Homo sapiens: one gene and its partner. Each later gene encodes a partner of the first gene's protein in a complex. Each region holds a gene or a part of one and is shown on either strand. Other genes may lie near its edges.

What was found. The genes of interacting proteins can lie anywhere in the genome.
Region 2: the proteins of VPS72 (region 1) and RUVBL1 are in contact, whole or in part, in a cryo-EM structure (PDB 9CA9), measured with the Homo sapiens proteins. Residues at the interface, in NP_005988.1 of Homo sapiens: Ile212, His215, Arg263, Thr264, Phe265, Ile266, Thr267, Phe268, Ser269, Asp271, Phe274, Trp277, Phe278, Gln280, Gly281, Arg282, Pro283, Pro284, Lys285, Val286, Pro287, Arg289, Glu290, Ala299, Leu300, Tyr301, Arg302, Pro309; in NP_003698.1 of Homo sapiens: Thr136, Leu138, Pro140, Glu142, Met147, Tyr150, Gly151, Lys152, Thr153, Ile154, Ser155, His156, Val157, Asp173, Pro174, Phe177, Glu178, Gln181, Ala187, Gly188, Arg205, Thr208, Tyr209, Ala210, Thr211, Glu212, Phe213.

Annotation. Positions count from the first base shown.
Region 1 is NC_000001.11:151,180,182-151,187,202, forward strand, and holds part of VPS72 (vacuolar protein sorting-associated protein 72 homolog), read right to left. Parts: intron 5,770-7,021; coding exon 5,617-5,769; intron 5,440-5,616; coding exon 5,325-5,439; intron 4,313-5,324; coding exon 4,136-4,312; intron 1-4,135. UniProt on the Homo sapiens protein: Deposition-and-exchange histone chaperone specific for H2AZ1, specifically chaperones H2AZ1 and deposits it into nucleosomes.
Region 2 is NC_000003.12:128,120,813-128,128,647, reverse strand, and holds the start of RUVBL1 (ruvB-like 1), read left to right. Parts: upstream 1-4,835; 5' UTR 4,836-4,923; coding exon 4,924-5,064; intron 5,065-7,835. UniProt on the Homo sapiens protein: Possesses single-stranded DNA-stimulated ATPase and ATP-dependent DNA helicase (3' to 5') activity; hexamerization is thought to be critical for ATP hydrolysis and adjacent subunits in the ring-like structure contribute to the ATPase activity.

The DNA of each region.
Region 1 (7,021 bases):
GGTGGCTTGCACCTGTAATCTCAGCTACTCGGGAGGCTGAGGCAGGACAATCACTTGAACCTGGGAGGCGGAGGTTGCAGTGAGCTGAGATTGTGCCATCGCACTCCAGCCTGGGTGACAGAGCAAGACTCCGTCTCAAAAAAAAAAAAAGAGTACTCTGGAAACCCTTCCAATGATTGAACCTCTCTTGCACTTGAACTGTTTGATAATACTGCTTTCTCTCCTTTGAGCCAGTCTTCCAACGCCTCAACCCCTTTACTTTCTTTTTCTTTTTTGAGACAGAGTCTTGCTCTGTCGCCAGGTTGGAGTACAGTGGCACAATCTCGGCTCCCTGCAACCTCCCCCTCCCAGGTTCAAGCAATTCTCCTGCCTCAGCCTCCTGAGTAGCAGGGACTATAGGCACGTGCCACCATGCCCAGCTAATATTTGTATTTTTAGTAGAGACGGGGTTTCACCATGTTGACCAGGATGGTCTGGAACTCCTGACCTCGTGATCCGCCCACCTCAGCCTCCCAAAGTGCTGGGATTACAGGCGTGAGCCACCACGCCTGGCCCAACCCCTCTACTTTCAAACACTTGCCTACACCCTCTGGAACTCGTGCTCTGTAATCTGCCAACTCATCTATATCCTCAAGCTCCTCACTCAGCATTCCTTCCATGACTTGCCTTAACAGAAACCTGGTCATTCACTGAGGCCACCACTCCTCTCTGCAGACCTCTGGTGGAGGTTGCTCATTCTCTTACATCCCTACAGGATATACCTATGTCCTACTGGGCCCCACCCTGTAGCTTTCAGAGCACTGCTTTTCTGCCTACCAGCAAACTCCCTTCTCTTTTGAGACCTGTGCCAAGAGTCTAGATTAACTTCTCTCCTTCCTAGTCATGGTCACTCCTTCATTCACTGAAGACTTTGGCAGTGGTTTCCACTCTTCGTCTCTACCCCAATTCCCATCATCTTAGGGTCACCCTGGTGACTTCGAAGTGCACATGGGTAGCCCCTTCAACACTGCATGGCCACAGTTTATCACCTCATCTCTAACAACCTTCTTTTCCATGTCACTTTACTTTTTTTTTTTTTTTGAGTCTCACTCTGTTGCCCAGGCTGGAGTGTAGCGACACGATCTCCACTCACTGCAACCTCCGCCTCCCGGGTTCAAGTGATTCTCCTCAGTGATTCTCAGCCCCCCGAGTAGCCAGGACTACAGGCACGCACCACCATGCCTGGCTAATTTTTTGTATGTTTAGTAGAGACGGGGTTTCACCATGTTGGCCAGGCTGGTCTCGAACTCCTTACCTTGTGATCCGCCTGCCTCGGCCTCCCAAAGTGCTGGGATTACAGATGTGAGCCACCGCGCCCAGTCACATTTTCCTTTTTAAATCATGCTTAGGTTGCTCACTGTATCATTTCAATCACTTCAGTCACTCTCCTGTCAATAATTCCCTTGCCCTGATCTGGACTGCTGAGTGCTACTGGAGAAAAATAACAGCACAGACTGGAACCACCATAAATTCATGGTCCTAGCCTTCAGCAGGTCCCTCAATACTGCTCAATATCCCACATCAATAACTATTTAAATGCTCCTCAGTCTCCTCAAGCTTCCAGCTGTATCCTTAATGTTTGACAGATGGTGCTGCATAATGAAAAAGACATCAGGTGAGAACCTCCGCCATGCCCTCCCTCTGGATTACAAACCTACAACTGTAAGCCACATTTTTAAACAGAGACAGGGTCTCACTATGTTGCCCAGGCTGGTCTTGAACTCCTGGGCTCAAGCGATCCTCCTTCCTTGGCCTCCCAAAGTGCTGGGATTACAGGCATGAGCCACTGCACTCAGCTAAGCCACACTTTCTTTCTTTTTTTTTGAGACAGAGTTTCACTCTTGTTACCCAGGCTGGAGTGCAATGGCACGATCTCGGCTCACCGCAACCCCCGCCTCCCGGGTTCAAGTGATTCTCCTGCCTCAGCCTCCCAAGTAGCTGGGATTACAGGCATGTGCCACCACACTCAGCTAATATTTTGTATTTTTAGTAGAGACAGGGTTTCTCCATGTTGGTCAGGCTGGTCTCGAACTCCTGACCTCAGATGATCCACCCGCCGCAGCCTTCCAAAGTGCTGGGATTACAGGTGTGAGCCACGGCGCCCGGCCACCACACTTTCTTTCTCCCTTCCCCCATCTGAAGCCAATTCCTCCACCATGCTGCTCTGGTTCCCAGCCTTGCCTCCCATCTCCAAAAACCTACACTATTAATAACCGTTTTTTCTTCTCTTTCTTTAAACTCAGTTCTTTCTCATGAAAGACATAATTTCTAATATCTTCGAATAAAATAAAAACAACTTTACCTTAATCTCACACCCCTCTGTAGCTTCCATTCCCTCTTCTACCCTTCATGGCCAAGCTTGAAAAGTTTTGCTCCCCAATATACTTTGATTCGACTTGGTCCCCAAAAAGTGCTAAGGTAATGTCTGACCTCTATCTCACCAAAACCAATGGGCACTTCTCAGTTCTACTAATCATCGTCTCAGCAGCAATTACTCTCTTGAGACATTCTCTTTCCTGGCATTTTTAACACAAACTCTCCTGGGTTTCTCCAACTCGTTGGTCACTTCCAGGCTCTTTTCAAAGCTCCTCCTCTTGTATGAAACTATCACATTTTAGTGTCTGCAGGACTCTATCAGGCCTCTGTTTTCTCACTCTGAGCTTTCTCCCTACATGCTCAGATGCACTCCAATATTGTCAATTACCACCCATATTCTAAAGACTTCCAAATTTGTATTTTCAGCCCAGATCTCTTATTGGAACACCAGATTTGCATATTTAACTGACCTCTCATCACTGCATGAATTGCTCACAAACTCCTTAAATTCAACATGTTCAAAAATAAATTTGTTTTTTCCCCACTGAACTTGCTCCTCCTTCAGGGTCTCCTAAGCCAGTTACTGATGTTGAAAACCTGGGAATTGCCGCGGGGTGGCCCAAGCCTGTAATCCCAGCACTTTGGGAGGGTGAGGCGGGTGGATCACCTGAGGTCAGGAGTTCAAGACCAGCCTGGCCAACATGGTGAAACCCCATCTCAACTAAAAATACAAAAAAATTAGCTGGGCATGGTGGCGGGCACCTGTAATCCCAGCTACTTGGGAGGCTGAGGCAAGAGAATCTCCAGCTCAGGAGGCGGAGCTTGCAGTGAGCCGAGATCATACCACTGCACTCCAGCCTGGGCGACAGAGTAAGACTCTGTCTCAAAAAAAAAAAAAAAAAAAAAAAGAAAGGAAAACCTGGGAGTCACTCTCCTTACAGTGGTCCAAACCAATCGCTCTGTAGCCCTGGCTGGAGTGCAGTGGTGTGATCTCGGCTCATTGCAACTTCCACCTCCCAGGTTCAAATGATTCTCTTGCCTCAGCCTCCCAAGTACCTGGGATTACAGACATGCGCCACCATGCCCAGCTAATTTTTGTATTTTTGGTAGAGACAGGGTTTCACCATGTTGGCCAGGCTGGTCTGGAACTCCCAACTGCAAGTGATCCACCCACCTTGGCCTCCCAAAGTGCCGGGATTACAGGTATGAGCCACTGCGCTTGGCCCAAACTGAAGAGATTTTTAAAGCAATACCATAAAATGAAGAGATTTTTAAAGCAATTTATCTCATGAAGGACTAATCTGCTGACTTCACGTTCTCATGATTATCATTAAAGTCAACATTATCACCCCCTGCTTTTTTTTTTTTTAAGAGATGGGGTTTCACTATGTTGTCCAGGCTGGTTATGAACTCCTGGCCTCAAGTGATCCTCCTGCCTAAATTTCCTGAGTCATTAGGTATATACCCCATTTTATAAACAAGAAAAGCAAAATGTGAATAAGTAATTTACCTACAGACTTAAAGCAAATGAATAGCAGAACGAGGATTTGACCTCAGTTCTATACAACTCTTATTTTACACCAAAGTACCTTAGCTTGTTCTTCAGAGTGCTCATAACTGCCTAGACTCTTGCACCTAATTACCTACTCTCCGCCATTTCTTCCTTCTGATTCCATCATCCCAAATTTCCATCTCTCCAGTTCTTTGGTCCTCCAGGTCTCATGGTTTTTCTCATGCCCCTCAGCCCCTCTACTCACTTTTTCTGAAACCACAGACTTACCCAGTGACCGTAAATTAAGCTCTTCTGTGATCTTGGCCTCCCGGAGCAGTTCCTCCTGGGTTAGTGGCCGCTCACAGTGGGGCCCCTTTCGCCGTCTTGACTGGCCCTGCCTCTCCTGTACCCGAAGGAACGTTTGTCGTGTATGCTCAGCTGTAGACTGACGCATAGACTTCCGACCTGGAAGAGAGTGAGATAAGAAGAAATCTTTGAATTCATGTCCACATATTTTATTTATTTATTTTGAAATGTTGTACTTGGAAATAATTTTTTTTTCTTTTTTTTTTTTTGAGATGGAATCTCGCTCTGTCGCCCAGGCTGGAGTACAGTGGCACGATCTCGGCTCACTCCAACCTCTGCTTCCTGGGTTCAAACAATTCTCCTGCCTCAGACTCCCGAGTAGCTGGGAGTACAGGTGCATGCCACCACATCCAGCTAATTTTTTGTATTTTTAGTAGAGATGGGGTTTCATCATGTTAGCCAGGATGGTCTTGAACTACTGACCTCGTGATCTGCCTGCCTCGGCCTCCCAAAATGCTGGGATTACAGGCATGAGCAACCGTGCCTGGCCTGAAATAATTTCAAACCTACGAAGTTGCAAGAATAGTACAAGGAATACTCATGTATCTTTTACCCCATCACCTATTGGTAATATTTTGGCCCTTTTGCATTTTGTTATGTGTGGTTTTTTTCTGAATGATCTAAATTAGGTAACTAAAGTTGTACACATCATGGCCTTTATCCCTAAATATTTCAGTGTGTATTTCCTAAGAATGAGGATTTTCCTACCCATAGTAAGTTATCAACATCAGTAAATTTTTTCTTCTTTTTATTACTTTTTTCTGGTGACAGAGTTTTGCTCTTGTTGCCCAGGCTGGAGTGCAATGGTGTAACCTCCACCTCCCAGGTTCAAGCAATTCTCCTGCCTCAGCCTCCCAAGTAGCTGGGATTACAGGGGCCCACCACCACACCTGGTTAATTTTTGTATTTTTAGTAGAGACGGAATTTCACCATGTTGGCCAGGCTGGTATCGAACTCCTGACCTCAGGTGATCTACCCGCCTAGGCCTCCCAAAGTGCTGGGATTCTAGGAGTGAGCCACCGCACCCAGCAACATCAGTAAATTTAACACTGATATGATACTTTATTATTATATTCCAATTTTGCCAATTGACCCTAACATCCCTACTCACTGTCAGAGCCGTCATCTTGTAGTTCTAATGGCAGTAGTGCCTTCTCTTCTCGCGCCTTCTGAGAGCTACCAGCCGGGGTGTTGACCTTTCGAGGCCTTAAGCTCTTGAGAGGTTCCTGAGGACAGATTGGAATCAGATACTGGGGAACAGAAGAAGTCAGGAGAAATATGAGGATCTCAATGAGAGAAAACTAGCATTGCCAGAAATGGAAGTGGCATAGGGAGTACTGGGACCTGATGAAAGAGAGAATAGGAATTGAGGAAATCCAAGACAACTAGGACTCCCCCTGTACCTTATAGGCCTTGGTGACTACTCGGCGCTTCCTTCTTGGCTCTTCTGCTTCTCCATCACTGGATGGTTCATCCCCTTCATCAATGTCAAAGTCAGAGTCCACTTCGTCCTCTGTGTCTGACTGGTCCCCTTGATACTCATCATCTCCGGATTCCTAAGGACACAGGGAGATAAGGGTTGGCTGGCAATGGAAGCCTTAATGCCCCTTCAGGAGGAACAGAATCTCTCGACTTTCTTGATAAGGGCTGCCCTACTCTCCTTCCTAATCCAGCCCTTCATTTTCCTCAGGCAAGAAAACTTTCTAGCTAATGGCCTTTGGCTCCAGTACCACCTCCTTCCAACATTAATTGATAGCCCTTTACCTGCAACACACTGTTAAGTACTGGGGAACAAAAGGATATGGTTTGGTCTCTACCTTCAGGGGCTTACAGTAAAGGGGAGGACATAATCTTACTTTTTTTTTTTTGAGATGTGGATCTCGAACAGGCTTGGTGGCTCACGCCTGTAATCCCAGCACTTTGGGAGGCCGAGGTGGGCAGATCACTTGAGGCCAGGAGTTCGAGACCAGCCTGGCCAACATGGTGAAACTCTGTCTCTACTAAAAATACAAAAATTAGCTGGGCATGGTGACGCACACCTGTAGTCCCAGCTACTTGGGAGGTTGAGGCAGGAGAACTGCTTGAACCCAGGAGGCATAGGTTGCAGTGAGCTGAGATAGTGCCACTGCACTCCAGCCTGGGCGACAGGGCGAGACACAGTCTCAAAAAGAAAAAAAAAAAAAAGGATGAAGAGGACTTAAACTATGATTGAAAACACTGTTAGTATTTAGACAGCCAAGAGGGAGGAAGGAATCATGGGCAGATGAAATAGCAGAAACAAAGGCACAGAAATGGTAATGTGTATAGCATGTTTATGGAATAAGGATTTAGATCTAAGTAAAACTTTTCTCTGTCAAGAAACCTTGTTAGCCAACTGCATTTGGCTCCAGCACTGCCTCCTTCCAACACTGATTGCACTGTAGGACTGTATGATTTGAAAAGAAGGTTGCATTCCATTTATGGAGAAACTTAAATGTCACACTAATAAACACGCTTTTAACCTGCAGGCCAGTGATTCTCAATCCCCTCCATCTCCTTATTTTCCCTACCATTGATAATCATTGTTGAGGTAAACTAAAGTTACTGAGAGAAATATGTGTCATTCCTCAGGCGTGTTGGGACAGAAAAACAGCTGAGTACTGCTACTATGGATAATGGAGGGCCACTGAAGATTTAGGGGAGGGGTAATGGTATGTACAATGGGTATTTCAGAAAGCTCTGGGGGCAGTTAGATGGCCTGGAGTAGAGAACGTGAAGTACAGCCTAGACCTCAGGTGAACTGGTTAGGGCTAGAATGGCAGCCATATT
Region 2 (7,835 bases), on another chromosome or scaffold:
AAGTGCTGGCCCCTGGGATATGAGTAGAAATGATGGTGCAACTTCAATATCAAGGTTAAAGGGAAGAAGTATGTCCTCTTCTTCCCCTTTTTTCCTTCTAGTTGGTGCAAATTCAGCCCTTTTGGGAGGAGTTTGAGCAGCTATCTTGGACCACACGATAGACAATGTGTGTGGGGAGTGGCAGAGCCACATCATAGAAGGACCATAGGCCCTTACTGATTGTAAAGCCAGCCCACCTCCTGGCATGCCTGCTTGGACTTTCTGTGAGATAAAGTGACTTCTCTCTTGTTTGATCCACTGTTATTTTAGATCTCTCTGTTACTGCAGCTGAACTAATCTTTTAACTAATGTAACATTTACTGCTGGGTGCTATGGCTAATGCCTGTAATCCCAGCATTTTGGGAGGTCAAGGCAGGAGGATTGCTTGAGTTCAGGAATTCAAGACCAGCTTAGCCAACACAGCAAGACCCCTGTCTTTACAAAAAAATAGAAAAAATTAGCTGGGTGTGGTGGCGCATGCCCAGCTACTCGGGAGGCTGAGATGGGAGGATCACTTGAAGCCCCCCAAAAAACTAACACAACGTTTATGTATTTATGTATGTATGTATGTATGTATGTATGTATGTATGTATGTATGTATTTATTATTTTTGAGACAGGGTCTCACTCTGTCGCCCAGGCTGGAGTGCAGTGGCGCAATCTCGGCTCACTGCAACCTCTGCCTTCTGGGTTCAAGCAATTCTTCTGCCTCAGCCTCCCGAGTAGCTGGGACTACAGGTGTGTGCTGCCATGCCTGGCTAATTTTTGTATTTTTAGTAGAGATGGGGTTTCACCATGTTGGCCAGGCTGGTCTCGAACTCCTGACCTCAAGTGATCTGCCCACCTCGGCCTCCCAAAGTGTTGGGATTACAGGCGTGAGCCACTGCACCTGGCCAAATAACAACATTTAATCATTACTTGGGTTGCTCCAGTTGAGGCTGGAGACCATGACTGTGCAGTGGTTACAGGGCACCACTGGGTAGTTGCATCCTGCCACACACAGTAGCCCTCAGGAGGCAGTGAAGAAGGCAGAGGGAGGCTTGACCTGGGCTTGTGGGTTCAAAGTTCAGGTGTGATAGAAGTCAAGGTAAGGAGGGAGCAGAAGGGTCAGGAAACAAGTGATTGAGATAATCAAGCTTGGGCTGGAGAAAGAGAGGTCAAAGGCCTGGAGGTGAAAGAGCAAAGGTCGTGGGAGTAAGGGAATGAGAGGGTCGTGGGAGTGAGGGAATGAGAGCTGGCAGGTCTAGGGCTGTCACAGCACAATTCTGGAATGTAGTAGTCCACACAATTACTTACATATGTGTCACTACATTGATATGGATTTTCAGTACCCACAGATAGAAATCTAACTCAAACATCTTAAGCCCCAAAGTAAATGCCATGTTACACTGCAAGTAAGGCGAGGATGATGCAGGGATATAAAGGATTTCATCGGGAATCTCTTTCTGTCAGCTTTCCTTTCCTCTGTCTTGGCTTCATTCTCAGGTAGAGTCTCCCCATGAAGTAACAAAGAAGACCAGCCTGCAGATCCATTACCTACATTTTCTCTCCTGATATGTCCAGTAAATTGCCAGGACTGACTGTCATTGAACTAGCTGCTCACATTTCTGAGCCAATTACAGTGTCTGAGAGGATGGGATACTGATAGGTCAGGCCAGGGCCACGTGTTTACCACTGAAACAAACATGGGGTGTGGGGTCAGTTCGCCCAAACTACGCAGACTCAAAGTGGGAGAACGGTCATTTCCTGAAGGAAAACGAGAGTGGTGGTGCGCAGAAGTGGGATGGACGCTGGTCAGGAATAACCCTGTCCACTGCAGCAGGCCTCACTTGCTGTTTATTGGACTTGTGTAGCTTGGATACTGGCCTGCCACATTGTTTTCTGTTGAAATGAAAGAAATTGTCTGACTTTGCAGCCAGGTCCAGCATCTTTACACACTGGATCTGTGTCAGGCATTTGCTCAATTTGTGACCTTGGACAAACCCTGTCCCTTCCTGGGGCCTCAGTTCCGTCACATGTAAAATGAGAATGCTAGGCCAGATCAATGACCTTTTTTTTTTTTTTTGAGATGAGTCTTGCTCTGTTGCCCAGGTTGGAGTGCAATGGCACGATCTCGGCTCACTGCAACCTCCACCTCCTGAGTTCAAGCGATTCTCGTGCCTCAGCCTCCTGAGTAGCTGGGGTTACAGGCGCCTGCCATCACGCCCAGGTAATTTTTGTATTTTTAGTAGAGATGGGGTTTTGCCATATTGGCCGGGCTGGTTTCGAACTCCTGACCTCAGGTGATCCACCTGCCTCGGCCTCCCAGAGTGCTGGGATTACAGGCGTGTACCACCGCCCCTGGCCCATCAGTGATGTTTGAACTGTTATTTAGCACACACACACACACACACACACACACACACACAAAGGAACAACTCTGGTGGAAGTGGGGGCATGGAGCTGGTATCCTACACTCTCAGCATTCCCTGTCCCCACCCGTACTGGCCACAAAAGGATTCCACAACTGCTGGGAATGTGGTTTGAAAACCACTAGACCAAGTAATCCAGGGGATATTCCTCTGTGCTCTAAAATCCTGATTCTCCCTTTCTCTTTTTGGACTAGAAGGAAATCCTTCTTTCTGTGCCAAAAGATACAAAGACTAGGGCTGAAATAATAAGTGTAAAAAAAGTCTTTTTCCTTAATTGGACAATACACAAAGAAGTCAGTCCCATAGAATGCCTCACTTTGACTACTAGTTGGTGGAAAAGTTTCCTTCTCCATATAGAGAAAGGAATTGCTTCTTTTCTAAGAGTAATGACCAGGAACAAGTCAATGAGGGGCTAAGCAACTTTGTGGGGTGCTGTCTCTAGTGCTGATGAACCACATGCCCTAGTAACAACCTCAGCCTTCCAAGGCCTGGCCTCTGTTCTTTTAGGCCCTGAAAATGCCAAAAGATTCCATTCACTGATGGAAATCATTACCAAGTCCTATAAAAGCCAACGTGTAAAATACATGCAGCAAAACTGATGAATTCAAGTGTATGTGTTTGTGTGTGGTCTAGAACCTTAATTGAATTCATGAGAAGCCTTAATTGTGAGCTGTGTTGTAGGCTGTGTGCCAGGCACTTAGGTTAAAATGGTAAACAATCAAATGTGGTCTACACCCTCAAAAGGCCTGCAGTTTACTGGGAGAGAAAAACATTGACCCAGTAATTATGCAAATCATTAGAAACCTAGATTCAAAAGAAAAGAAAAAAGTATATAGAAACCTAGATTCAAATGTTAGAATCAAGATGTACAAGGAGGTGTGAGAGGCCGGGCGCGGTGGCTCACGCTTGTAATCCCAGCACTTTGGGAGGCCGAGGCGGGCGGATCACGAGGTCAGGAGATTGAGACCATTCTGGCTAACACGGTGAAACCCCGTCTCTACTAAAAATACAAAAAAATTAGCCGGGCGTGATGGTGGGCGCCTGTAGTCCCAGCTACTCGGGAGGCTGAGGCAGGAGAATGGCGTGAACCCGGGAGGCGGAGCTTGCAGTGAGCCGAGATTGCGCCACTGCACTCCCGCCTGGGCCACAAAGCAAGACTCCGTCTCAAAAAAAAAAAAAAAAAAAAAAAAAAAGGCGGTGTGAGACTGTGGAACTACTGTAATTGGATTTGATTTCAGGTCTGTCTCAATTCTAACATAAACTCTCCTGCACTCTGGGCAAGTCCTTCCCTTCCTCTGGATGTTAGTATCCTCTTCTGTAAAAATGGTGTCATACCATTTGCTTCTGAGGAAATCTCTCCTATTTGTTGGAATTCAGCCAAGGCAACATCACCTTCATGATGCCTTCCCTGGCTCTCCAGGCTGTTCCGGGGGCTTCTGCTCTGGTCTTCTCGCCACCTGGGTGTACCTGTCTCAGCACATCTCACGTTGCAAGTTTTCTAAGCAAGAAGTAAACGCATCAAGACTTTTATCCCTGTATCCCCAGTGCATTGTGGTGTCTGGCTCGTGTTTGTTGAACGGATGGATGGATGGATGGCAAGTACAATTGTGGTGCAGGTTGTGCTAATATCATTATGAAACCTGAAGGGACAATTTGCTGGCTGATTGTCTCAGCTGGAGTCATGGGACGTGATGAGCATTATTATATAGGTTTTGAAGCCTGAAGATTTCTAGTTCTGATTATTTGTGATGCTTTCTTGGGCGGATGGGCCTCTTTCCGCTTGTTTGTAGCTGCATGCGTAATTACACTACCTTACAGGGCTGTGGAATTTTGAAAACTGCAAAATGTTATTTACAGTCAACTGAACTCAGCAGGAACCTTATCTCTCGGTGGAGGATGGAGGATAGAAGCAGGGGAAGACAATTCCACGGAAACGGTGGTGGGTTGAGCTGGGCCTTTCCAGGGAGATGCAAAGGTATGGGAGTCAGAAAACATTGGTTAGTAACCAATCCCAGTTTAAGCTCTGAACCTCAGTTCTTCTGTTTCCAAAACGGAAATAATAACTTGAGATTTGCGTAAGAGTATGACGTTCAAATGTGCTAATGGATAGGACGGAAGGATTAGGAGTGGTACCCGGGGGCCACTGCCTCGTGCAACGCCCCAGCCCTAGATCAAATCCGGGGCGTGGTCCCACTGTGCTCCCGACCCCAGCCTCGGCAGGAAGCGCCGGCTACGGGGGAAGCCAACCCGGAGACACAGACGGAAGTGGGTGACCGGAGCTCTAGCAGCAGCCGCGATGGGCGCAGCCGTGAGCCTATGGAGAGCGGAGGTGTTCCCGCTTCCACCAATGGAAAGCCGGTCTAGGCGGGCCTTTGCAAATTGCCCTAGTAACGGCCGCATGGTAACTCAGGCGCCGGGCGCACTGTCCTAGCTGCTGGTTTTCCACGCTGGTTTTAGCTCCCGGCGTCTGCAAAATGAAGATTGAGGAGGTGAAGAGCACTACGAAGACGCAGCGCATCGCCTCCCACAGCCACGTGAAAGGGCTGGGGCTGGACGAGAGCGGCTTGGCCAAGCAGGCGGCCTCAGGGCTTGTGGGCCAGGAGAACGCGCGAGAGGTGTGGCCAGTGGACCAGGGAGTTGGGGGCTGCAAGCAGGGCTGCTGCGGCGAGAGAGCTGCTGAAGTCGGTGGCTCGGGGCGGGATGCGCGCGCCAGGGGTCTCCCGCCATTATTTCCTCAGGGAAGTGAAAATGGGCCAGGGGCTCGGGGAGGGGCGCCGCCCTGGAGCTGGGTGAGGGGCCGCCCCAGGATACCTAGTGACGATCCACTGGGGGCAGTTGACGGTTTGCCAACTCATGGACAAGTGCTGATATAAACCCACACAACCCCGTCCCCTTAATTCGTACCAGGCTCTATTCGCGACACTGGGATACAGCGGGAATTAAGATAGGAGCTTACATTTTAGTGTAGTGAGAGACGATAAACGTGTACACCAATAAATAAAAATAATTATCTTATCTTGGTGGGGTTAGTTACTGCAGGGCTTTGTCGGCCACGGTCAGGAAATTGGATTTTATTGTGAATGCAGTGGCAGGCTATGGGACGGTTTAAAGTAGGGAATTGACTAAACTTTAAAAGCTCATTTTGGTTCCCAGGATCCGGGAACTGAGGGAGAGAAGTGGGAATTATGGAGAAGAGCAATCTGGTTTATCCACCCCTCCAAGCATCCTTTTTGACCATTCCAATTAAATCTCCTTTTTCTAAGTGCTGGTGATGCCAAGTACTTTCACATACATATTATTTTTTGGCAGGTGAAAATATTGAGTTGGGGAGAGGGCACTTCACGTATATGCTTGACACTCGTTTTAGTAACGGTAAACCTGGGGTTTGCACCCACGTGTATTTCTGACTCCCAAATCAGTGCTCTATGATGATACAGCCACCCTCTCTGCCTGCTGTTCTCTAAGGTCACAGCCATGCCCCTTGGCCTTTGGAGAGCCTTAGCTTCTACAAAAATCTTCACTTAATATAAAGTTAAGCTACTGCCTCTTAGCCTGATTTTTCTAAATGGAAAGGCCTCAAAGAAAAGCCTCAGGTTTCCATTTTGAGCATCATCTTTCCAAAAAGGAAGTGTTTGACCCTGGCTTACTAAGCAGCTAGTACTGCAAGTAGCTAACATTGGTTGAGTGCTTTCCATGTGCCAAGCACTGTGCTAAGTAGCTATATGTCCACTGCCTTGTCATATCCAACGTATTAGTTGTCCCTTCCCCGCTTTAGTATGACAGTTTTCAGACACAAAAAAAGTTGAAAGACTTGTAAATACTTGTGTGCCTAAATTCTATAATTAACATTTTACTGTGCTGCTTTATCATATATCTTTTCATCTGTCCCTCTCCCAATCCACTTTTACATTTCAAGGTGAATTGCAGGCATCACTACACTTTACCCCTACACCCTTTAACCTGTGTGCCATTGACTAGTATGAACTCTGTTCAAGTGAGGAAATTCTGGTTCATAGAGGTCAAATAAGTAGGTCCAAGGTTACTCATCTGGTAAGTGCGAGAGCCAGTATTTTAACTCAAGTCTATGTATTTAAACCCAGAGTGCATGCTCTATGCCTAAGTGCATGCTCTATGCCTAAGAGTGATGCTGTATGCCTAAGACCCACCTCAGCTACCAGGTTCTTGTGTGACTCTGGTCACATCAGTAACCTCCCTGAAAAATGAGAGTTAGACTAGGTGATCTTTTAAAGACCCTTCCAATTCTTTTTAAATGTTAGAATTCAAGCTTATCTCACCTGAGAGTAGTTGGAGTGGAAATTGAGGGAGAATGGATGGAAGAGGTCCTGGTCTGTAAATAAACGCACATCTCCAAGGTTTGTAAAGTCTCTTCTACCTTGGGTTTCCCAAAGAGCTTCAGTGCTGGGGATTATGATATGACAGGGTTGTGTGGAAAGACCATAGTAGTTTTTTTTTTTTTTTTTTTTTTTTGAGACGAAGTTTTGCTCTTGTTGCCCAGGCTGGAGTGCAATGGCGCGATCTCGGCTCACTGCAACCTCTGCCTCCTGGGTTCAAGCGATTCTCCTGCCTCAGCCTCGTGAGTAGCTGGGATTACAGGCGCCTACCACCACGCTCGGCTAATTTTTGTATATTTAGTAGAGACAGGGTTTCACCATGTTGACCAGGCTGGTCTTGAACTCCTGACCTCAGGTGATCACCTGCCTCGGCCTCCCGAAGTGCTGGGATTACAGGCATGAGCCAACGCGCCTGGCTAGGTTTTTTATCTATTTAGAAATATAGCATCTGGGCCGGGCGTAGTGGCTCACACCTGTAATCCCAGCACTTTGGGAGGCCAAGGCAAGTGGATCACCTGAGGTCAGGAGTTTGAGACCAGCCTGGCCAACATGACGAAACCCTGTCTCTACTAAAAATACAAAAATTAGCCGGGTGTGGTGGTATGCGCCTGTAGTCTCAGTTATTCGTGAGGCTGAGGCAGGAGAATCACTTGAACCTGGGAGGTGGAGGTTGCAGTGAGCTGAGATCGCGCCATTGCGCTCCAGCCCGGGTGACAGCGAGACTCCATCTGAAAGAGAAAAGAAAAGTAGCATCTGAAGAATATCTTCTAGGTTCTATTAAGGGCAGTGTGCTTTGGTAACTGAAGTGGAAATGGGATGGATATAGCATACCCACACACATTGCTTACATCATTTTTTTTTTTTTTGAGAGGGAGTCTCGCTCTGTCGCCCAGGCTGGAGTGCAGTGGCGCCATCTCGGTTCACTGCAAGCTCCGCCTCCTGGGTTCACGCCATTCTTCTGCCTCAGCCTCCCGAGTAGCAGGTGGATTACATGGTCGGGAGATTGAGACCATCCCGGCTAACATGGTGAAACC